3 linked regions of the Homo sapiens genome follow. The protein of the gene in region 2 interacts with the protein of the main gene of each other region in a biochemical or structural test. Each region holds a gene or a part of one and is shown on either strand. Other genes may lie near its edges. The genes, in order: CTCF, HDLBP and XPOT.

Region 1 (7,358 bases), on a different chromosome or scaffold from region 2:
AGCACAATCTCGGCTCACTGCAACCTCCACCTTCTAGGTTCGAGCGGTTCTCCTGTCTCAGCCTCCCTAGTAGCCAGGACTACGGCGTGTGCCACCATGCCTGGCTAATTTTTTGTATTTTTAGTAGAGACAGGGTTTCACTGTGTTAGTCAGGATGGTCTCAATCTCCTGACCTCGTGATTCTCCCGCCTTGGTCACCCAAAGTGCTGGGATTACAGGCGTGAGCCACCGCTCCCAGCCACAACTACTCTTAAATAGGCAGTATTTTCTTATGCAGGCAAACATTCCTGTTTTAATCATCCTCCTATCACTAATTTAAATAACAGGTCCTGGCCTGGCGAGATGGCTCACGCCTGTAATCCCAGCACTCTGGGAGGCTGAGGCGGGTGGATCACCTGAGGTCAGGAGTTCGAGACCAGCCTGGCCAACATCGTGAAAACCCGTCTCTACTAAAAATACAAAAATTAGCCGGGCGTGGTGGCACGGGCCTGTAATTCCTGCTACTTGGGAGGCAGAGACAGGAGAATTGCTTGAATCCGGGAGGCAGAGGTTGCAGTGAGCCGAGATCGCACCACTGCCACTCCAGCCTAGGGGACAGAACGAGACTCCGTCTCAAAAAAAAAAAAAGGTCTGGGTTACCCTAACATATCAATTCATCCTCAATTTATTCTCTCCGTAGATTGTTTTTTAATAAAAACAAAACAAAGCATGATTCCTGGCATATGGGAATTTCAAAGGATAGCAACTGTGTGGAAAAGGTCTATTCCACTAAAACAGCATAAATGACGTATAAACCCAAGAAGCTGATGACTGCATATGAAACAACCAAACCAAGAAGCAAAATATGGTCTATGGAGCACAGTACTAACCCGGGAAAACAAGCTTTACTCCTGGCTCGATTATACACCTGCTGTATTTTAATTTTTAACTCAATGTTGAGCTTATTTAAATAAATAAAACATGCTACTTAACCACAATTTCAAAAGGAAAACAAAGTCACAAAAGAATGCAATAAATTACACAATTGGACTAACATATTAGATAATTAAAGGTGATTCTATTCCCAAGTCTAACTATCAATCAACGCTACTGCATTTAGTTACTCTATGCAATTTTATTGAGGAAGAGGGGTGGCAGGAATATTTTGCAGGGTTCCAAAAGGAGACATAGAAAGCGTGCCTACGAAGAGGACTGCAGTGAGGAGCTACACATTGAGATTACATACAGTGGACTGGACAACTTTGGTTAGGACCAGGCTGTTTAATTTCTTCATAAACTTAACATAGCTTCCTTCCTAAAAACAGGTTAATCCAGACTTTCTTCTCTCCAAAACAACCCGAACTGATACATTAACTGCTGCAATGAACTATATTAAGGCACTAGAATATTTACGGAAAAGCAAAAGACTCCCGCAATTCAACGGGATGCTTTTTAGTGAAGAAAGAAAACTTAAGGACCGAATAAATTTAAATATATGCCTTGTTTAACTTCCTTTCCCACCTATGAGGACTTGGTTTTTAACTTTCCTAGTTGATCGAAACTCAAAGTATGAAGACTACGTATGCGAATGTTTACTTAACGCTGAACTCGGGGCTACAGGAAGTCTCCTACTAAACAGTAGTTACATTAGGCGTAGATATTTATAAACCATCTGCAGCAAGTGACCCAGGATTCAATTACAACATCAACCCTCATATTTCATCGCATGGGCAAATTACCAGTCGAGTCAAGAATAAACTCATTCTGCCCTACTGGCGCTCTAGATCGAGTTGCACAATCCTGGGGCAGAACCGCCTTCACCTAGCCCTAGAGCATCAGGTACTAAGTTAGTGTGAGGACATTTTAAAGCGGGAGGGAAACTCAAGGGACTTAGCCCATACTCCCAAATTCAGAAATTTGTCACGTCACTTGAGATCAGAATGAAATTTAAGTTTCAGTCCCTTTGAGATCTCTGAGCGCACAAAGTCAGGCTGCTATCACTCGGCTGGGGAGTCCGAACCCGGCTGGATAAAAACTACTTGGTGCGGAACTCGCATCTTTTCCGCCCACCGTGGGGGGGCCGCACCGGTCGGGTCCGGCCAGGAACCCGGGCGCGAGTTTGGGGGCGCAGCGGGGGCGGCGAGCGCGCGTCCCCCCGCCCGCTCAGGCAGCGTAGAGGTGCGAGCAGCTCAGCCAGCCTTGCAGAGGGAGCTCTCGGCAGCTCTGGGGTCCCTCTGCTCGCAGCCGCTGCAGCGCCGCCTGCGCCACTCGGCGGAGACGGAGACCAGCGGCGGCGACGCGCGGACTGGGAGCGACCGCCGAGCAGCCAAGCAGCTGGGAAGGCACGCAGGCCGGCAGGGTAGGTTCCGGGGACGGGGCTGGCTGGAGGAGGGGCAGCCCGAGACGCGACGGCCAGGGCCCGACACCCATACGGCACCGGGACCTGGCTTAGCGCGCGGCGGCAGTCGGTCCGAACCCTTAAGCTAGGCGGGCGCCGAAGCCGGGACGCGGAGATAGTGTCTCAGCTGGGGCCACCCGCCGCGGGAGGGGCGGAGGACACAGGACAGAGGGCGGGCCGCGGCCGGGCGATCGGCCGGCCAAGAACCGGCCTCGAGGGCAGACAAAGGAAGGAAAATGGAGTCGCCGGGCGCGCGGGCCTCTGCCTCTGCCGCCGCCCGAGGCCTAGCGCGCTGCCAGGAGGGAGGCCTAGCGGGCGGGCGGGCGGGCGGGCGTGGGGGTGGGGGGGGCGGCCGGGCCACGGCGGCGACGGGCAATGGCGGCGGCCGCGCCGCAGCAGGGACGGTAGAGGGAGACAAACACCCCCCGGCGGCGGCGCTGGCGCCGGGCTGCAGCCAGCGCCGACCGGAGCGGCCCCATCGTGACACCTAGAGGCGGCCCGCGAAACCTCCTCCACCCCGGGCCCCCTTACCTCCGCGCCACACCCCCCGCGGCGCCCGCTCCGCCGCCGCTCCACGGCTCCGGCCACCCGGCGTCTCCGGCGAGCTCCGCGCGTCCGCACCGGCCACCGCCGCCGCCGCTGCCGCCAAAGAAGCAGCTCCGCGCACGGTTTAATCGCTCCACAGGCTCAGACACAAAATGGCGGCGGCGCGGTGCAGTGCGCCTGCGTCGGCGCTGCCGGGGCCGCGGGTGCTGATAAGGGAAGGGACGGGTGGGGGGACCGGCCGGGCGGCGAGTAGAGGGCGGGGGAGGAAAGGTGAGGGGAGGGGTTGGCGCAGGGCAGCATGGGAGGCGGCCCCGGGCGCCAACTTTCAAAAGCGGGCGCGATGGCGTCACGGGACGCGCCGCGAGTCGCGTCGTCACGCCGCACGCGCCCTCGCCGGGTCGCTCGTGGGCTCTGCCGGCGCCGCGGCGTCCTGGCTCCCGCTGGGTGGGGCTTCCTGGGCGGAGGCCGCCGCCCCTGGGCGGTGCCGGATCCAGTCCGCTTGACCTTATTCCCTAGCTGCTGTCTCCGGCCCCCTGAACCCGTACAGGGTTGGGGAAGTGGGGGTGGCTGGAGGAAGCGCGCGCGGGGCAAGCCAGTGGGGCTGAGGAGGCTCCCGGGCCCGGCCCCGCCCAGTCTCCGCCCCAGCCAGGCCCGACCCGCCCTCCGAATGTCTTACAGCTGCCCGCCCCAGAGTAAGGCCCGGTCGGTTCCCGCGCGCTCCCAGCTCCGTGCCCGCGAGCGACGACTGGAAGGGCTGTCCTTGCTCAGCGGCTTTTGGTGATCTCTCCGCCCTAGAAGAGGGCCACCTAAAAGCGGGTGCGAGAGGAGAGTGGGAGGGCCTCCTCTTGGTGTCCCCAGGCCACCTCAGCCCGGAGAGGTGGCGGAAAACCAGACTTGATGCTTTAACACGTTCATAGCAATCGCTTTTTACTGAAAGGAGTTTCTGTATTTAGCGCTGTGTAATTCTGTGGAAACGTGCATTTCTTGTCTTTGCGGGAGAGCTGTTCTCTGTGGGCGGAGACCTTCAGTCCCACCCCTCCCCAGGAGGCGCCTGCGGACCCTTCCCAACCTGCAGTCAAGTTGACCAAGAACTGACTGCAAGGTGCTGGTGGCTCTGGGATGAGAGCCTTTTGGTACTTACAGGGAATATGACTCTTCCCTTAGATATCAAATGGACCCAATATCTAGGGAGCAGCTTCTTCTCCATCCATCTGACCGTTCCGTTGTGAGAATGCTGGCCCAATAACATACTCTTTTTTTTTCCCCTAAAGGAATAAAAAAATCTGTATTTTTAAGATGTCAAATCTCCAGAGTTTTTAGATGTTAGCAACTGAATCAGATGTTTTTAAACTTCATGAGCTGATTAAACCACACAGATGAGCTGTCAGTTTACGACCCCTGGCTTGGCTTGGAGGAAAGAGTGAAGAGAAATTCCATGGCCAAATCCTGGGGCACTCCAATATTGGGAGGGTAATGGAGAAGGAGTCTGAAAGGCAGCATCTAGGAAGTCATGAAAGCTAGCGCTGAGTTGTGGAATCCCTGGGCAGAGAAGGTTTCAGGTAGGAGGCATCAGCTGAGCGGTGTGATAAACTTGGGCCAGAGATGTGGCTATTGGATTGGGTCACCTTGCAAGTCACTGGAGAATGTCACTGATGGCCTTGGCTTGATTCACGTGAGTATATCAGGGAGGTGGACCTGACCGGAATGGGTTAAACAGTCACCAGGAAAGTGAGGAAATGGAGACAGCACATGTATGCAATTTGAGAGAGGTTTTGCTGTGAAGGGACCAGATAAGTTTGGGGATAGATATAGAAAGAAATCTTTTAAAAGATAGTAGGGGCCGGGCGCAGTGGCTCACGCCTGTTATCCTAGCACTTTGGGAGGCCAAGGCAGGTGGATCACCTGAGGTCAGGAGTTCGAGACCAGCCTGGCCAATATGGTGAAACCCGGTCTCTACTAAAAATACAAAAATTAGTTGGGCATGGTATCGCGCGCCTGTAATCCAAGCTACTGGGGAGGCTGAGGCAGGAGAATTGCTTGAACCCGGGAGGCAGAGGTTGCAGAGAGCCAAGATTGGGCCACAGCACTCCAGCCTGGGCAACAAAGCGGGACTCCATCTCAAAAAATAATAATAAATAAAATAAAAGATGGTAGGGTTCCCAGAGCATGTTTATGTGCCATTGGGAGGGATATGGTGGGGAAGAAAGATGGGTGATCCAGGAGAGAGGAGGCTTGCTTGACCTATATAGGAGTGAAATCCATCAGAAGATATAAGGAAACAGGGAGGGTTGACCTTGGAGAGGAACAGGGATGCTTCCATTCATGATAAGGGCAACAAAGGTGAAGACAGATGCAAGTGCAGGGGAGAGGGAAGGCAAGTCCTTAACAGGATTGCCTTGGTGGCATTGGGTACTCATCTGAGGTTTGTGATCATGATGTTAAAGGTAAACCAGTTGGCCCAGTGTGTTGGTTTTTCTCCAACATTCAGCTGCTTGGGTACAGACATGAAGAAAAGGGATAGTACAGCTTCTCAACACCAGGACCCAATTTTTCTCATTTCTTTTTTTTTTTTTTGAGACGGAGTTTTGCTCTTATCGCCCAGGCTGGAGTGCAATGGTGTGATCTCAGCTCACCACAACCTCTGCCTCCTGGGTTCAAGCGATTCTCCTGCCTCAACCTCCTGAGTAGCTGGGATTACAGGCATGCGCTACCACCCCCGACTAATTTTGTATTTTTAGTAGAGATGGGGTTTCTCCATGTTGGTCAGGCTGGTCTTGAACTCCCAACCTCAGGTGATCCGCCCGCCTCGGCCTCCCAAAGTGCTGGGATTACAGGAGCGACTCACCGCGCCCGGCAAGTTTTCTCATGTCTAATCCCAGTTACTTACCTTATACAATTAGATACTATTTTAGAAATGTGTGAAGTATTTGAAAAATTTACACGTGACCCTTCTTTTTCTAGAAACCAAGTTATCCCATTTGCCTCTTATGTACACATTAGGACTCAGACATAAAGAAAAGACAAACTCAGAGGAAAATTACCAAACAGATGCTTCTGGAATATTTGCATTTTGCATTCTCCTCAGCCCAAATAGTTCCTGGTATACTTAAGAACTTATGTACTAGAAACAACAAAGCTGACATGCACATAGGGAGACCTTGTTTATACAAAAAATTTAAAAATTAGCTGAGTGTGGTGGCGTATGACTGTAGTCCCAGCTACTTGGGAGGCTGAGGTGGGAAGATCGCTTGAGCCCAGGAGGTCGAGACTACAGGGAGCCATGTGTGTGCCACTGTACTCCAGCCTGGGTGATGAAGCAAGACCCTGTCTCAAAAAAATAAAAAATAGGCCAGGCACAGTGGCTCATGCCTGTAATCCCAGCACTTTGGGAGGCCAAGGTAGGTGGATTACTTGAGCCCAGGAGTTTGAGACTAGCCTGGGTAACATGGCAAAAGCCCATCTCTACAAAAAATTAGCTGAACATGGTGGTGTGTACCTGTAGTCCCAGATACTTGGGAGGCTGAGGCAGGAGCATCACTTGAGCCCAGGAGGTTGAAGCTGCAGTGAACCCCGATTGCACCACTACATTCCAGCCTGAGTGACAGAGCAAGACATTGTCTCAAAAATAAAAAAAAAATTAAAAGCTGACTTGCATTTAAACTTTAGATTTTCTTTCTAGTAACATTAATAAGCTAATTAGTTCACTTTCTCAAGATTTTACTTCAAATCACCTTCCTTTTTTTTTGTTTTTTGTTTTCTTTTTGTGGAGATGAGGTCTCACTGTGTTGCCCAGGCTGGTCTCAGGCTCCAGCAATTCTCCTGTCTTGGCCTTCCAAAGTGCTGGGATGTAAGCCACCACACCTGTCCCCATCTTCTTTAAGAGTAGACTACAGGAACACCTTCTAAAGCTTTTATGTAGGCAAATATGAAGCAGTGGATTTATTTTTTTATTTTATTTTATTTTTAGATGTAATCTCACTCTGTCGCCCAGGCTGGAATGCAGTGGCTCGATCTCAGCTCGCTGCAACTTCTGCTTCCTGGGTTCAAGCAATTCTCCTGCCTCAGCCTCCCGAGTAGCTGGGACTACAGGTGTGCACTACCACTCCTGGCTAATTTTTTGTATTTTTAGTGGAGACGGGGTTTTGCCATGTTGGCCAGGCTGGTCTTGAACTCCTGATCTCAGGAGATCCGCCCACCTCAGCCTCCCAAAGTCTTGGGATTACAGATGTAAGCCACCACACCCAGCCTGAGGCAGTGGATTTAGAGGGAAAAAAGCCTCAATTATATTTATGATTATATTTACAACTATATATTAATTATATTTATAACTCTATGATCTCTGAGGCATCAAAAGCCAGGAATGGGGTCCAAGTGGCCTTGAAGCCTGCTTTCTGAAGACAAGGACCCTATGTACTGCTCTCACATAGGGCTGAGA
Region 2 (7,107 bases):
CTGGGCACCCAGGGTGTGGCCAAGGCCAAGACGCTGCCACACAGTCTCTGTGCCCTTCTAGCACAGCACACAGCCATGGAGAACAAGACGTGCAGGTGACCTGGGGAGGATAAAGGAAATGTGGCCCCAGGGAGTCCAATCCGGTTCCAGTGCAACGTGGGATTTGTCGACTTCCATTCTCTAAGGCCGCACACCACAACACGCTACTCCTTAGAGGGGGCCAAGAGACGCAAGGCCAGTGCCTTTCTAGAGGGCCCAGCCATGGCACTTACCATGCGAGATGCAAGCTCCAGCAGCTCTCGCTTGGCCTGCTGCACGCCCTGTGGGTCCCCCTCGATGCGGATCAAATTGCTCTTCTCACTGTCAGGAGGGATGCGCACGGACACCTTGTACTGGTCTTTGATTCTGTTTACTTAGGAACACAAAAGGAAACACATTTAGGACACAGACCAACAACATTCTGCCAATGACATAACTGGGCAGGACAGCGCTAAAGCGCTAAATAACCTTATCTGTGATTCCCATCACCAAAAACGATGCTTAGCTTCCCAAACAAAAATCTCCATTGTCTAGAATGGGGGCCAGTTATGATCTTCACCTGGATCACAAGGGTTCTGGAGGACAGGCTCTCAGCCTGGACCAGAAGCTGGAAATGCCCCGAGACCTTCAAATAACTGACGGTTGGGGCCACTCAGTCTGGGATTTAGCTCGTCTGGGGTATTGGCCAGGGCTTCAGAATAGTTGAAGGATTCCAGGTGTTTCTAATGTGCAGTAAGTTTGGGAACTACTATTCTCAAGTTAAAAAAACCACACACATTAACTCCACACAAAAGCACTCACTGACGCCTAAGAGCCTTGTGGGGCCCATGCTGCTGCCCAGAGACCCCATCTACTGTTGGCTCAGATTCACACTGAGCACTTCACTGTGTCTGCAAGACAAGTGCTGTTGCAAACCCTCCTGCTGTCAACCTCTCTGGATAGAACCCAGTACCCCCAAGTTAAGAGTTCCAGGCCCCCCAAACTCTGGAGAAGCCGTATCATCAGGAAACAAGGCAGGAATCTTGCCCACTGTGCAGTAAAGGGAAGCCCAGCTTGCTGGAAGGACCACGAGGAGGGCTTTTTGTGCGTCCATCCCAAACACATGCACACGCAGAGGCAGCAACGAGGCGATGCACTGAGGGGGGAACATGGACATGCAGCTGTGCCAGGTGAAGCAACACAAGACAAGAGAAGCAGAGGACATGGGAGCTGGGCAGCAGGTTTTTTTAGATTACGAAAGAAGACAAGAGTTAGGAACTGCATGAGAAGAAAACAGAACAGACATGACTGACTAAGCTACATTCTGCAATTTCTCGGGGGCAGAAACCAGAAATTAATGTTAGATTTACACTACTGTACTTCCATATATATGTGTTTTGAGACAGGGTCTTGCTCTGTCACCCAGGCTAAAATGCAGTGGCACGATACAATCACAGCTCACTGCAGCCTTGACTTCCTGGGCTCAAGTGATATTCCTGCCTCAGCCTCCAGAGCAGCGGGGACCACAGGCCTGGCTAAATTTTTCTTTTTTGTAGAGACAGGGGTCTCACTATGTTGCCCAGGCTCATCTCGAACTCCTGGGCTCAAGTGATCCTCCTGCCTTGGTCTCCCAAAATGCTGGGATTACAGGCAAGAGCCACCGTGTCAGGCCTAAACAAACGCTACAGTTAACCAAAACCAAAACAAAACCGTAAAAGCAAGTTTATGGTGTATGTGTGGTTCAAGTAGTGCGCAAAAAGGTCACTTTGTGCCTACAGACTCTCGTCGCTGTCACGTAAAATGCCCACAAAACATAAGACTGACACCAGAGAGCTCACCATTGCACAGGCCACAGCACAGCTGCCAAGGCTATGTTTACTCATAACAAAAACGGATACACGGACGTCAGTCATGTTATGCAGGTCGGTGTCCCACTACCTGGGAAAGGCTCCTTCATCCACTGAACTATCCAGGAATGGAGGACGTGCTTGCCTTCTCACCTTCCACCCAAAGGTAACACACGCGACGTGTGCACTTGTTTTCAGAACACGCGAGTGTGTGAGTATAGCCATACAGTTAAACAAAGAGGTGTAAAAAAACATTCTTGGTTGGGCACAGTGGCTCATGCCTGTAATCCCAGCACTTTGGGAGGCCGAGGTGGGCAGATCAACTAAGGTCAGCAGTTTGACACCAGCCTAGACAACATGGTGAAATTCCATCTCTACTAAAAATACAAAAAAATTAGCTGGGTGTGGTGGTGCACGCCTGTAATCCCAGCTACTTGGGAGGCTGAGGCAGGAGAATCGCTTGAACCTGGGAGGTGGACGTTGCAGTGAACTGAGATCACGCCACTGCACTCCAGCCTGGTGACAGAGCGAGACTCCGTCCCAAAAAACAAACAAACAACACAAAACATCCTTGGACCTGCAGCAGAATGCCCACGACACACTTCTAACAGCATCCTGTAACTGTGCTACACCTGCAACCTGGCACAGGTGAGGCACACAGCGACCTTGGCCCACATGACATACTTCCAACAGTGTCCTGTAACTGTGCTACACCTACAACCTGGCACAGGTGAGGCATATAGCGACCTTGGCTGACATATCACTGCCTCTTCAACAGAATCCCCCTGCTGGGTGTGGTGGCTCACACTTTTAATCCCAGCACCTTGGGAGGCCAAGGTGGGCAGATCACCTGAGCCCAGGAATTTGAGACAAGCCTGGCCAACATGGTGAAACCCCGTCTCTTCTAAAAATACAAAAATTAATTGGCTGTGGTGGCATGCACCTGTAGTCCCAGCTACTCAGGAGGCTGAAGCTGGAGAATTGCTTGAGCCCGGTAGGCAGAGGTTGTAGTGAGCTGAGATCACGCCACTGCACTCCAGCCTGGGTGACAGAGTGAGACCCTGTCTCAAAAAAGTATCCCTCCCCATGTTGTTTTACTTGGGCACAAATCTAGAATGTTTTTACTCTTCAGTGAGTTCCAGATCAGCAGTTTCCACGTTCAGAAGGCATGAGTACTACCAACACTGATTGGCTAACCTAGCAGGTCTGACGGAAATATAGAGAATGCTGCCCTTGGGCATGCCTTCAACATGGCCTCTGTGGGTTATTTGGGGAGGGCTTAGATGGATTTCCAAAAGTGACAATTCACCCACTGGCCAAGCAGCTCTAATCCAACCACTGCACCAAAGGGAAAAGGAAAAGTGGCCTCTTCCAGCAGGCAGGAGGATGTAAAGTCTGTAACTCCCATTACAGGCAGCAATGGGCCTGGACTGTCTGCACGGACGTCACAGTTCTCACAGCTGACACCCCCCACAAGGGTCTCAGGGCACACTGGCCCCACCGCAACAGACAGCCTCACTCACTGTTGGCACCGCTCTTCCCAATGAGGTGCCTGTGGAACTTGTGGTCGATGTTGATCTCCACATAGTCCATCCGGTTAATCTGCAGGAGGAGCACAGAGGTCCATGGATGCGCCTGGTTACTTGGCCAATGAGCTGAACCAAAACCCAGCAGTCTCCACGGTTGCCTTTTCTGACCACTCAGCTGTCAGGAATTGTTGGAGACTGCCCCTGCATCTCCCCTGAAAGATGCCTTCTTCAAGATGAAGTTTCCTCCACCCACGATTATTCCAGGACTTCGACCAGCTTCTGGTTGTTTCAGAACCTATTACTCACCCAGCTAGGATGCCCTGGGTGTCTGTGCCCGGACATGTGGGATGTCATCGAGAGATGACCGCCCATGCCCAACTCAGAGCCTCCCTTGTCACCAGCACACACAACATTCCAAGGGGTACCTTACCAAATCTTTGACCATGCCTTCTATCTGTTCCTGGGCCACATTGACATCCTCTGTAGGGCCCTCCAGGGTGATCTTGTCTTCGCCCTCTGTGAACTCGATGTGAACCTACCACACCAAAACCAAAGAGATAGCTAAAACAGAATGGCACAGCTGCAGCCCCTGAGCTCCCAGTGGGAGCTCTCTTCGGAGCGGCTTCTGATCCCAAACTGCTTCACATAGATGTGAGGGAGGGAGGGACATATCCACAGCCATCAAACAAAGTTGAAAGGGAGGGTTAGGGAGCCATAGTCAGGAAACTAAATACTGTGGCCGAATAATCCTGCCTCTCACTAAGGACACCGTTTGCCCCACAGAAGCCACTAACATAAAGCATGCGACATGCGACATGCTCCTCCACCATCTGAACTTTTACAAGGCCTGGTCCTCTTGAGTTGCATAAAGAATGAGACAGAGCACGGATGGAATTTTAAAACTCGTATAGCTGTACCAAGGTGGTAAAGTAACTTGCTTGACATAGACAAGGCTGCCAGAGTTCCTGGTTTATTATCCTCCAGGTAAGGAGTTAAGGAAGGCAGACTGGTCCTTATATGAAGCTATACAAAGTAAAAGGGGCTGGGCACAGTGACTCACACCCATAACCTCAATATTTTGGGAGGCTGAGGTAGGAGGACTACTTGATCCCACGAGTTCGAGATCAACCTGGGCAACTAGTAAGACTCTGCCTCCACGAAAACTAGCCTGGGGCGCCTGTAGTGCCAGCTACTTGGGAAGCTGAGACGAGCGGATCACTTGACCCATGAGTTCAAGGCTGCAGTGAGCTATGACTGCGCTACTGCACCCCAGCCTGGGTGACAGAGTGAGGCTTTGTCACTAAAAAAAAGGAATAAAATAAAAAAAATTTAATTTTTAAAAAGGACTGTAACATTAATTGGAAACAAAGTTTAAATAAAACAGGAATTAAATATGATGGTTGGATTCTCTGGTATTTCTTTTTTGTTCATGTTTCCTGGGGGCTACAATCTCCTTTGGTAAACTGAGAACGCTTTAAATTCACACTTAATACAATTTGTATACAAGTTCTGCTCTTCAAAGTATTTTTTTTTTTTTTTTGAGACAGAGTCTCGCTCTGTCGCCAAGGCTGGAATGCAGTGGTGCCATCTCGGCTCACTGCAAGCTCCACCTCCCGGGTTCACGCCATTCTCCTGCCTCAGCCTCCCAAGCAGCTGGGACCACAGGTGCCCGCCACCAAGCCCGGCTAATTTTTTGTATTTTTAGTAGAGTCGGGGTTTCACCATGTTAGCCAGGATGGTCTCGATCTCCTGACCTCATGAGCCACCGCACCCGGCCCGCCAAAGTATCATGAAGTTATTTCACCATAATTACTAAATGACATGTTTCTTAAGATACTTATGAAACCTAAGAACATACAATCCTCTCTGGTTAAAGGCCAGAAGGATGGTACAGACATCTACAGACATTTATTCTGCTGTTCTTTAAGCTAACACGGAAGTTGACCATGTCAAACAGGCCAGTTAATTCAGAAAAATACACCAGTTTTCAAGGGCATCCACAGTACAAAGGTCAACAAAGCAATATCAGAAACAGAAAGACAGAAAACAAGACAAATTCAATACAACAGGTGAAAAACGTGTCCTTACCTTTGGCATCTGCTGAGTGATTTTGGCCAGGTTCTGCCCTTTCTTGCCAATGATGAAACGGTGAAGCCAGGAAGGGGCGGCGACAGAGGAGACGGTGAAGCTATTGGCCTAAGAAAATGGGAGAACAGCCATGGGTTTGCAGAGCTCAAGGTCGTGTCACAGTGAAAGCCAGGCTGCTCACCTGGGGCTCAGAGGCACGCTCTCCCCAAACCTGGGCACCTGCACTGTGTCCAGGCCCCAGGATTTACAAATCGAGAGCTCATCCATGAAGGCCCCGCGGACTCCACTCAAAGGAGACACACTTCATGCTCGGAGGCAGTTACCTTGGCATAGACTTCAGTCAACGCCTGACCTAACTTTTCAGGTTCGCCTCGAAGTATTACAGTCTCAGAGATGCTGTCTGAGGGTGGGATCTCAACGGAAACTCCAGTTCTCTCAAGGATCTCCTGCAATGAATTGCCCTTGGGCCCAATGACATACTTGTGTTGGGATTTCTTCACTTCCACTGCAATGGTTGTAGTCTTCTTTTTCTAAATAAGAGCACCATAAGGGGCAGTCAAAGGGAAAGGTGTGGGAAGCGGGCAGGTGGGCATGGCCACTGCTGCAGAAAGCAAGCCAAAGCGGCCCAGACTATAGATGCTGATCCCAAGAAGTGAACAACAAGTGATCAGGACTAGCCAATCCCCAGAAACTTCACTGTTCAAGGACTGGATTTTTCCCCTCAGTCTAGTCACCCGCCGGCTGATAACTTCGTCCTTGAACACTGCAAAACACCCAATCCTTTCCCTCAATTAAGGAACACGTTTCAGACCTCAAAGTTCACTAAGCTGAGCTAACAGCTTAATCTAAGACGTGAACAAGTCCGGGATGTGCATCTGACCCGGGGCAGCCCAGCTGGCAGCCTGTCAGCACAGTCAGAGGCCCAGGACGGCAAGGACAACTGCCAGGCAGATGCTCAACAGCAAGGGGGGGCGGGCACCGATCTCACCCGGGTCACTCAAGTGTAGAGACAATAAGCATCTTCATCAAGGACAAAAAGATAAGGGGCAGAACCAGGCCTTAACTGAATCTCCAGACCCAAATCCTCATTTCTATTCCTGCCCATGGGGATTTGCCTCCTCTAAATCGTGTACCTTCTCCTCATAAATCTTCTTGATGCGAGCCACAGCCTGAGCCAACTGTTCCTTCTCTCCAGTGAAGACAATCTCTGTCCGGTTCACGCTGGGTGGGGGGATGTTGATGCGCGTGCCTGTCTCCTGCATGATCTCGCCAACCAGTCTATTATACGGCCCAGCGATGAAGGGGTGGAATGCCTTTTCTACTTCTAGCCTCTCCACAGCACGTTTGTCCTGGAAAGGAAGGGATGATCTGATGAGAACAGGCCTTTGAAAACAAACTGGGGACAGACAGGGCTTTTTAGAGTTGGAGTCAAGCCCTCCACCCCCACCACATTATGCCTTGAAGTCCACACTGGACACGGCAACCCATGAGGGAGTGAGGTCTGCACAAGCAGGTAGGCAGGGGCACGAGGCACTCACACAGGCCTCACCTGCTCGGCAGAGATGAGTAAGACTTCATGGCGAGCTTTCTCGATGCCCTCTTTGGTGCCAGTGATCTTGATCTGA
Region 3 (7,107 bases), on a different chromosome or scaffold from region 2:
AAATGTTGAAGCATTTTATGAAGAAGAAAAAATTCATTAAAGATGAGCTTGCTGTTAAAATGAAAAGTATATTAAAAATTTTAAAAACCAAAAGAAAATAAAAATTTAAAAAATTCAACTTCTAAATTATTCTGTTTAATCCTATAATTGTATTAGCCATTCTTAGCAGCTGCTACTGTTAGATCGAAGGTTTTCCCTGTCATTTCAGGCTTAGGGTAAAAAAAAAAATTAAGTGCTAGTCGATCTGAATATTTTGGTGTTGGGATTGGGCCATAATCCCAAGTGTTAAAATCCTGAAATCCTAAAAACCACAATTCTAAAAGATCAAAATCTTAAAAATATAATCCTGGAAAAAGTAATTTTAAAAAATTATTTGAAAGATATTACTTTACATTTTTAAAAGGGAATGTATTTGAGAAACATGTAAAAACATGACAGCACTTCATAGGCCACTTTACACAATAAAATAGGCAATAATAACATGCTTTTGCAAGCATAAACAGTTATAAAAATGACAGTTACATGTGTAAAACAGGAGCAGACAAACTGTATTCATAAATCAGAAAGCAAAATGTGTAAGTGCATGTCACTATGGTTAGTAGTTGTGTGCCACTCTGCTTTATAACTGCGCTCATCTGAAATAACCATGACAGACAACCTAAGTCTTGAGGAAATTGATAAAAAACGGCAATGGGTCACTACAACATATGCAGTCACCCAAAGAACTGAGATCACAAGAAATTTTATGTTTCACAGATGCAGATGTACAGAAAGGACCTTTCTTGTGTACATGCAGTGTTTACACACACAGTTAATGCTGTGTGTAATGTACTTTTGCAGAGTCAAATTTCTGATGTTCAAGGCCGCAGAAGAAAAGTCTGTCCACCTTTCAGAGAGAGACCAATTTGCCTTATGTATTTGTTCTCTCAGAGCCCCTGGTCAATTGGATGGTGCCCGCCAACACTGAGGGCAGGTCTTCCCCACATAGTCTACTTGGACTGACTAATCTTTCCTGGAAACACCCTTACAGACACATGCAAAATAATGCTTTACTGTGTGTTGTTACTTAATTATTTAAAAGAAGTATAGCACTCTAGTACTTTTTTTTTTTTTTTTGAGACAGAGTCTTGGCTCTGTCACCCAGGCTGGAGTGCAGTGGCATGGTCTTGACTCACTACAACTCTACCTCTCAGGTTCAAGCAGTTCTCCTGCCTCAGCCTCCCGCGTAGCTGGGACTACAGGTGCGCCACCACACCCAGCTAATTTTTGTATTTTTAGTAGAGACAGGGTTTCACCACGTTGACCAGGCTGGTCACGAACTCCTGACCTCAAGTGATCTGCCGGCCTCGGCCTCCCAAAGTGCTAGGATTACAGGCATGAACCACCACATGCAGCCTAGCCTCATAACAATCTTATATAAATAAGATCTTTACAAAAGAAAACAAGTTAGAAAGCTAACTTTAATAATTATCTTACATGATCATTTATAGAGTCTTGTCAGGGCTGGAATTAGAACCGTGATCTGTTGACCTCTAATTTAGTTTTCTTTTCATTCTATGGTCCTGGGAGAAAATTTGTCTTTATAAGTATTTGACATATGAGTTGGTGTGATAGATTACATTTCCTGTTCCTAATGCACTTTTTCTCATTAAATGAAGGGAACTCAAAAAATAAAAGCTTTAATAAGACTGAATTTCATTCTAGGAGAATGGCCACCAGTCCTTACTGAGCAGCGATGATCAACTTTTTATTTATGAGACAGCTGGAGTGCTGATTGTTAATAGTGAATATCCGGCAGAAAGGAAACAAGCCTTAATGAGGAATCTGTTGACTCCACTAATGGAGAAGTTTAAAATTCTGTTAGAAAAGTTGATGCTGGCACAAGATGAAGAAAGGCAAGCCTCTCTAGCAGACTGTCTTAACCATGCTGTTGGATTTGCAAGGTAAGTGTGATCACAGTTAAAATTATAAAGTGCATGTATCTACACAGACAGAACCACTTGTTTGGTGGGCACACACATTTGTGTTTCCACAGTTGGATAATCCAGAGAATTGTCTAAATCTTTGTCCTCCAAATCCAGTCAGTTAGATTTGGTTGAAGAAGGGGATAGGTTACATACCATTTACATTTTTGCCTTGACAACTGTAAATCTTTAACTCCTCTGACTTCTCTGATATAAATGGGTTGTGTGTTTAAGAGGATCAGCTGAAGTGTTAATATACCAAATATATATTGGGACGGGACATCTTTGGTTAGTCTTGGTTACCTTAAAGAGAAGAGCGTGAGGTTTCTCTTCAGTTGTATTGTGTCCTGAAGATCACCCAAGCAGCTGTTTTTTCCGCCTCTAGCCATACTTTTTGTTGACAAACAACAGCATGAAAGTTGTAAAGATTGCTAATTTAGAAGTTAAATTGTTCTATAATATATTTAAGAACAAGAGCTAGATATTAGAGAGGTTGTATAAAGAATTCTGAAGATGGTTTTCTAAATTTAAATGGGTGGTTTGCAGGTTACCTAGTACAGGCCTAGTCATAATAAGTGGATTTATTTTCTCTTTTCTGTCCACTTTGTCAGTAGGATTTTTCTCTTTTTTTTCTTTTTTCTTTTTTTTGTGGGGGAGACACAGTCTTGCTTTGTCACTCAGGCTGGAGTGCAGTGTTGTGATCTCAGCTCAGTGCAACCTCCGCCTCCCAGGCTCAAGCAATTCTTGTGCCTCAGCCTCCAAGTAGCTGGGATTGCAGGCATGTGCTACCACACCCAGCTAATTTTTCTATTTTTAGTAAAGACCGGTTTTGACCATGTTGTCCAGACTGGTCTTGAACTCCTGGCCTCAAGTGATTTGCCTGCCTTAGCCTCCCAAAGTGCTGGAATTAGAAGCATGAGCCACAATACCCAGCCCAGTCAATAGGATTTTAATAAAACATTTAGGTAGACTCACATTAGAAGGATTATATTAACTACATGTCATTCATTTAAGTTAATTTGAGCTCTTTTGTTCTGGAAAGATCATTGGAAGCAGTAGTTTACAAATAGCCATATTAGCTAAAGATGGAAGTAATTGTGATGTGGAAAATAAAGGTCTGGTTATTTAGTTTTGTTAATTTTGTAATTTGTTGTGCATTGCTTTTGAATACTCCATAACACTTTTAAAGAATAAAGTTGCATCTGATTGCCTGATTTTTGCTTATATAGTCGAACCAGTAAAGCTTTCAGCAACAAACAGACTGTGAAACAATGTGGCTGTTCCGAAGTTTATCTGGACTGTTTACAGACATTCTTGCCAGCCCTCAGTTGTCCCTTACAAAAGGATATTCTCAGAAGTGGAGTCCGTACTTTCCTTCATCGAATGATTATTTGCCTGGAGGAAGAAGTTCTTCCGTTCATTCCATCTGCTTCAGAACATATGCTCAAAGATTGTGAAGCAAAAGATCTCCAGGAGTTCATTCCTCTTATCAACCAGATTACGGCCAAATTCAAGGTACCGCAAACTTTCAGAGCTCTGAAAATCTCTTGAAGATCAGATGTATTTATCTTCAGACATGTTTCGGATTTTGCCCTTGGGTTTCTTTTTTTTTGCTTTTAATGAATTACTTAAGAGCCTCATGGATCATATGTATTTTTATCATCTGTGGTGTCTGGCACACTGCCTGATACATAGGTCATGCTTAATAGATGTTTGAATATAAACAGACCCTAACCGCTTTGTGTAGCAAAAGAAAACTAGTCTGCTGTTTTAGAAGAGCATATAAAACCAGTAAACTGAGTACTAAATAAGCACCATAATTCAGGTACCCAAGCAAGAGTTAAAAGTAATTCAATGTATTAAAGTCAGTTTTCTGTAGGACATTTAAGCTGGCTAATAAAAGTGGTTAATACTTACATAGTACCTCTTTTTTCCTTTTTTCTTTTTTTTTTAAATGGAGATAGTCTCACTCTGTCACATAGGCTGGAGTGCAGTGGCGCGGTCACAACTCACTGCAACCTCCACCTCCCAGGTTCAAGCGATTCTTGTGCCTCAGCCTCCTGAGTAGCTGGAACTATAGGTGCATGCACCACACCACGCTAATATTTTGTACTTTTAGTAGAGACAGCGTTTCCCCATGTTGACCAGGCTAATCTCGAACTCCTGACCTCAAGTGATCCTCCTGCCTCGGCCTCCATAAGTGCTAGGATTACAGGCATAAACCTGGCCACTTACATAGTACTTTCTATGTTCAAAATCTGTTCTAAGCATTTTTTGTACATTTACTCATTTGATCTTCATACCTACCCTAGAAGACAGGGATTATATGTTATAGTTGAGGAAACTGAGGCATGGAGAAGTGAAGGGATTTGCCCAAGAGTTCATAAAACTCAGGAGTTCATTTGTAAGCAAGTATTGAGAACATGCTATTAAACAATGTTTTTTACCTTTGTTCAAAAACAAGAAAAACCCTAAGAGTTTAATCATATAATTCATTTTTTGAGAATTTAATTTTGAAAATATTCCATGGCAATATTGTGAAATATGTCTGACTATTATTTTAACCTAAATCTTAAGCTGTAGGAAAGGGTTTAAATTTAATGATCTTGAGTCTTTTAGTAATATTTTTTAAGGTTTTTTCCCCACCTTGAAATGGAGTCTTGCTGTGTTGCCCAGGCTGGAGTGCAGTGGTATGATCTTGACTCACTGCAACCTCCACCTCTCAGGTTCAAGCAGTTCCCCTGCGTCAGCCTCCTGAGTAGCTTGGACTGGGACTACAGGCGTGCGCCACTACACCCAGCTAATTTTTGTATTTTTAGTAGAGATGGGGTTTCACCATGTTGGGCAGACTGGCCTTGAACTCCTGACCTCAGGTGACTCACCCGCCTTAGCCTCCCAAAGTGCTGGGATTACAGGTGTGAGCCACTGCGTCTGGCCTAGTAATGTTTAGGTTATATAGATTTTATCTTAAAATTGATATTTGCTAACTGAATTATGTACGCATGCATCCTAAATAGAAAAGAAAGGCTTTATGTAAAATAGTTTTTTCTAAGTTGTATGTTAATATTGTTACTAATTTCTGAAGTAATGATTGTTTATCTTCAGATACAGGTATCCCCGTTTTTACAACAGATGTTCATGCCCCTGCTTCATGCAATTTTTGAAGTGCTGCTCCGGCCAGCAGAAGAAAATGACCAGTCTGCTGCTTTAGAGAAGCAGATGTTGCGGAGGAGTTACTTTGCTTTCCTGCAAACAGTCACAGGCAGTGGGATGAGCGAAGTTATAGCAAATCAAGGTGGGAACACATGCCATATCTAATTTGTCTGCTTAAGTCTGTGTCACTGTTGTACATCTATATGACCAAGAGCAAACTGAAGTAAATACAGAAATTTTGAAGTTTGCTATCCCATGGGAAGACAGTTTATTGTTTTCAGGGTGGGAATTGATCACTTTTATGTAAAGCACCTAAAATTAATTTGTATTCTGTTCCTTTTTCTTTCTGCAATATTTTTTTAATTTGGTTCTTTAGCAATATAAATAACATGGTTACTTACCAGAATTGACCTGACAATTGAGTCTTTATGGCAAATTTGCCATTTTGAAATATAAAATAAATGGAGCTGTACAGATTTGTGTAGAGAATTCTGTATAGGAAATTTAGGGAACAAGATACCAGGGGCAAACTGATTTTTCATTGTTTTATTTTTTAATTTGATTTGATTTGTGAGATAGGGTCTCACTCTCTTGCCCAGGCTGTAGTGCAGTGGTGTCATCACGACTCATTGCAACCTCCACCTCCTGGGCTATCCTCCCATCTCTACCTCCTGAGTAGCCAGGACCATTGGCAGTTGCCACAATGCTGGGCTTATTTTTTGTAGAGATGGGATCTCACCACGTTGCCCAGGCTGGTTAAACTCCTGGGCTCAAGCAATCTTCCTCGGCCTTACAAAGGGCTGGAATTACAGACAGGAGCCACCGCGCCCAGCTGATTTTTCAGTGTTTAATGTTTAAACTTTAGGTGCCCAGTTAATAAAAATCAAGGGATTTTGGCAATTCTGTAAATGCTTTTTTCCCCCTTCATTTTTCCCATTCCACCTGTAAATGATTTTTGACTTGTTAATGTATATGAAAAGAGAACTTCAGGTTGCTTTCCTAGTTAATTTTGGAAATTGCTTAAACTAAAGGTTTTTCTCCTCAGGTGCAGAGAATGTAGAAAGAGTGTTGGTTACTGTTATCCAAGGAGCAGTTGAATATCCAGATCCAATTGCACAGAAAACATGTTTTATCATCCTCTCAAAGTTGGTAGAACTCTGGGGTAAGATAATTTTATTTCTTAACCTTCATTTCCCAAACTCTTTCATAAAACTCTTAGACATAATGGAACATAGCCCTAACAGAGAGAGAAACTGGGAGTTGGTTTTCCCTGGTGATGAATTAATTGACTTACTTTTATATATAAGATGAAAATTTGAATTCTCTTGACAGGAGGTAAAGATGGACCAGTGGGATTTGCTGATTTTGTTTATAAGCACATTGTCCCCGCATGTTTCCTAGCACCTTTAAAACAAACCTTTGACCTGGCAGATGCACAAACAGTATTGGTAAGCACCTAGGAATCTTTGTTTACCTTGTGTAGCTCATATATTCCCAATTTCTTCTTTAATGCCAGGTTGATTATATTATGTTTCATTGATTTTTTTTTTAACTTAGTGATTTCAGATCAGGGTTCTTTTTTTAAAGATTTATGATACCTTCTGGAGTTTTTATGAATTCTTATTGAATCCCAATGCTACTGCTGAATTTTACAAATTCTACTCCTTCGACTTTAACACCTGACTTTTTCTAGGACCATGAAAGGGCATATGTCACAAACATTCTTTCAAGCTTGAGTATTAGTTTCCTACTACTACTTTAATTCTAAAACTTGTACCTAGTGGTTTTCCCTAATCATTAAGAGCATGAAATGGCAACTTGATCCTCCTTGTATGATAGTTTCCCCAAATCTAATTTTCACAATACTTAATGTCAATTTCCGCTTTCTCACTTTCCCACAACCTGGTAAAAGCTAGATTTCATAATTGTAATTTACTACGTTAAAACAACAGTTTGTATTTTTCTGTTTTTTTTCTTTTTTTACTTCAAC

The links.
Region 1: the proteins of HDLBP (region 2) and CTCF form a complex in vitro, tested with the Homo sapiens proteins (one study listed by BioGRID).
Region 3: the proteins of HDLBP (region 2) and XPOT form a complex in vitro, tested with the Homo sapiens proteins (one study listed by BioGRID).

What each region holds. Positions count from the first base shown.
Region 1 is NC_000016.10:67,558,275-67,565,632, reverse strand, and holds the start of CTCF (transcriptional repressor CTCF), read right to left. Parts: upstream 3,108-7,358; 5' UTR 2,909-3,107; intron 2,339-2,908; exon of another isoform or gene 2,183-2,338; intron 1-2,182.
Region 2 is NC_000002.12:241,249,569-241,256,675, forward strand, and holds part of HDLBP (vigilin), read right to left. Parts: coding exon 7,032-7,107; intron 6,832-7,031; coding exon 6,616-6,831; intron 6,013-6,615; coding exon 5,806-6,012; intron 5,591-5,805; coding exon 5,483-5,590; intron 3,930-5,482; coding exon 3,825-3,929; intron 3,468-3,824; coding exon 3,389-3,467; intron 413-3,388; coding exon 273-412; intron 1-272. UniProt on the Homo sapiens protein: Appears to play a role in cell sterol metabolism. It may function to protect cells from over-accumulation of cholesterol.
Region 3 is NC_000012.12:64,428,345-64,435,451, forward strand, and holds part of XPOT (exportin-T), read left to right. Parts: intron 1-1,704; coding exon 1,705-1,943; intron 1,944-3,193; coding exon 3,194-3,479; intron 3,480-5,069; coding exon 5,070-5,259; intron 5,260-6,162; coding exon 6,163-6,279; intron 6,280-6,449; coding exon 6,450-6,565; intron 6,566-7,107. UniProt on the Homo sapiens protein: Mediates the nuclear export of aminoacylated tRNAs. In the nucleus binds to tRNA and to the GTPase Ran in its active GTP-bound form. Docking of this trimeric complex to the nuclear pore complex (NPC) is mediated through binding to nucleoporins.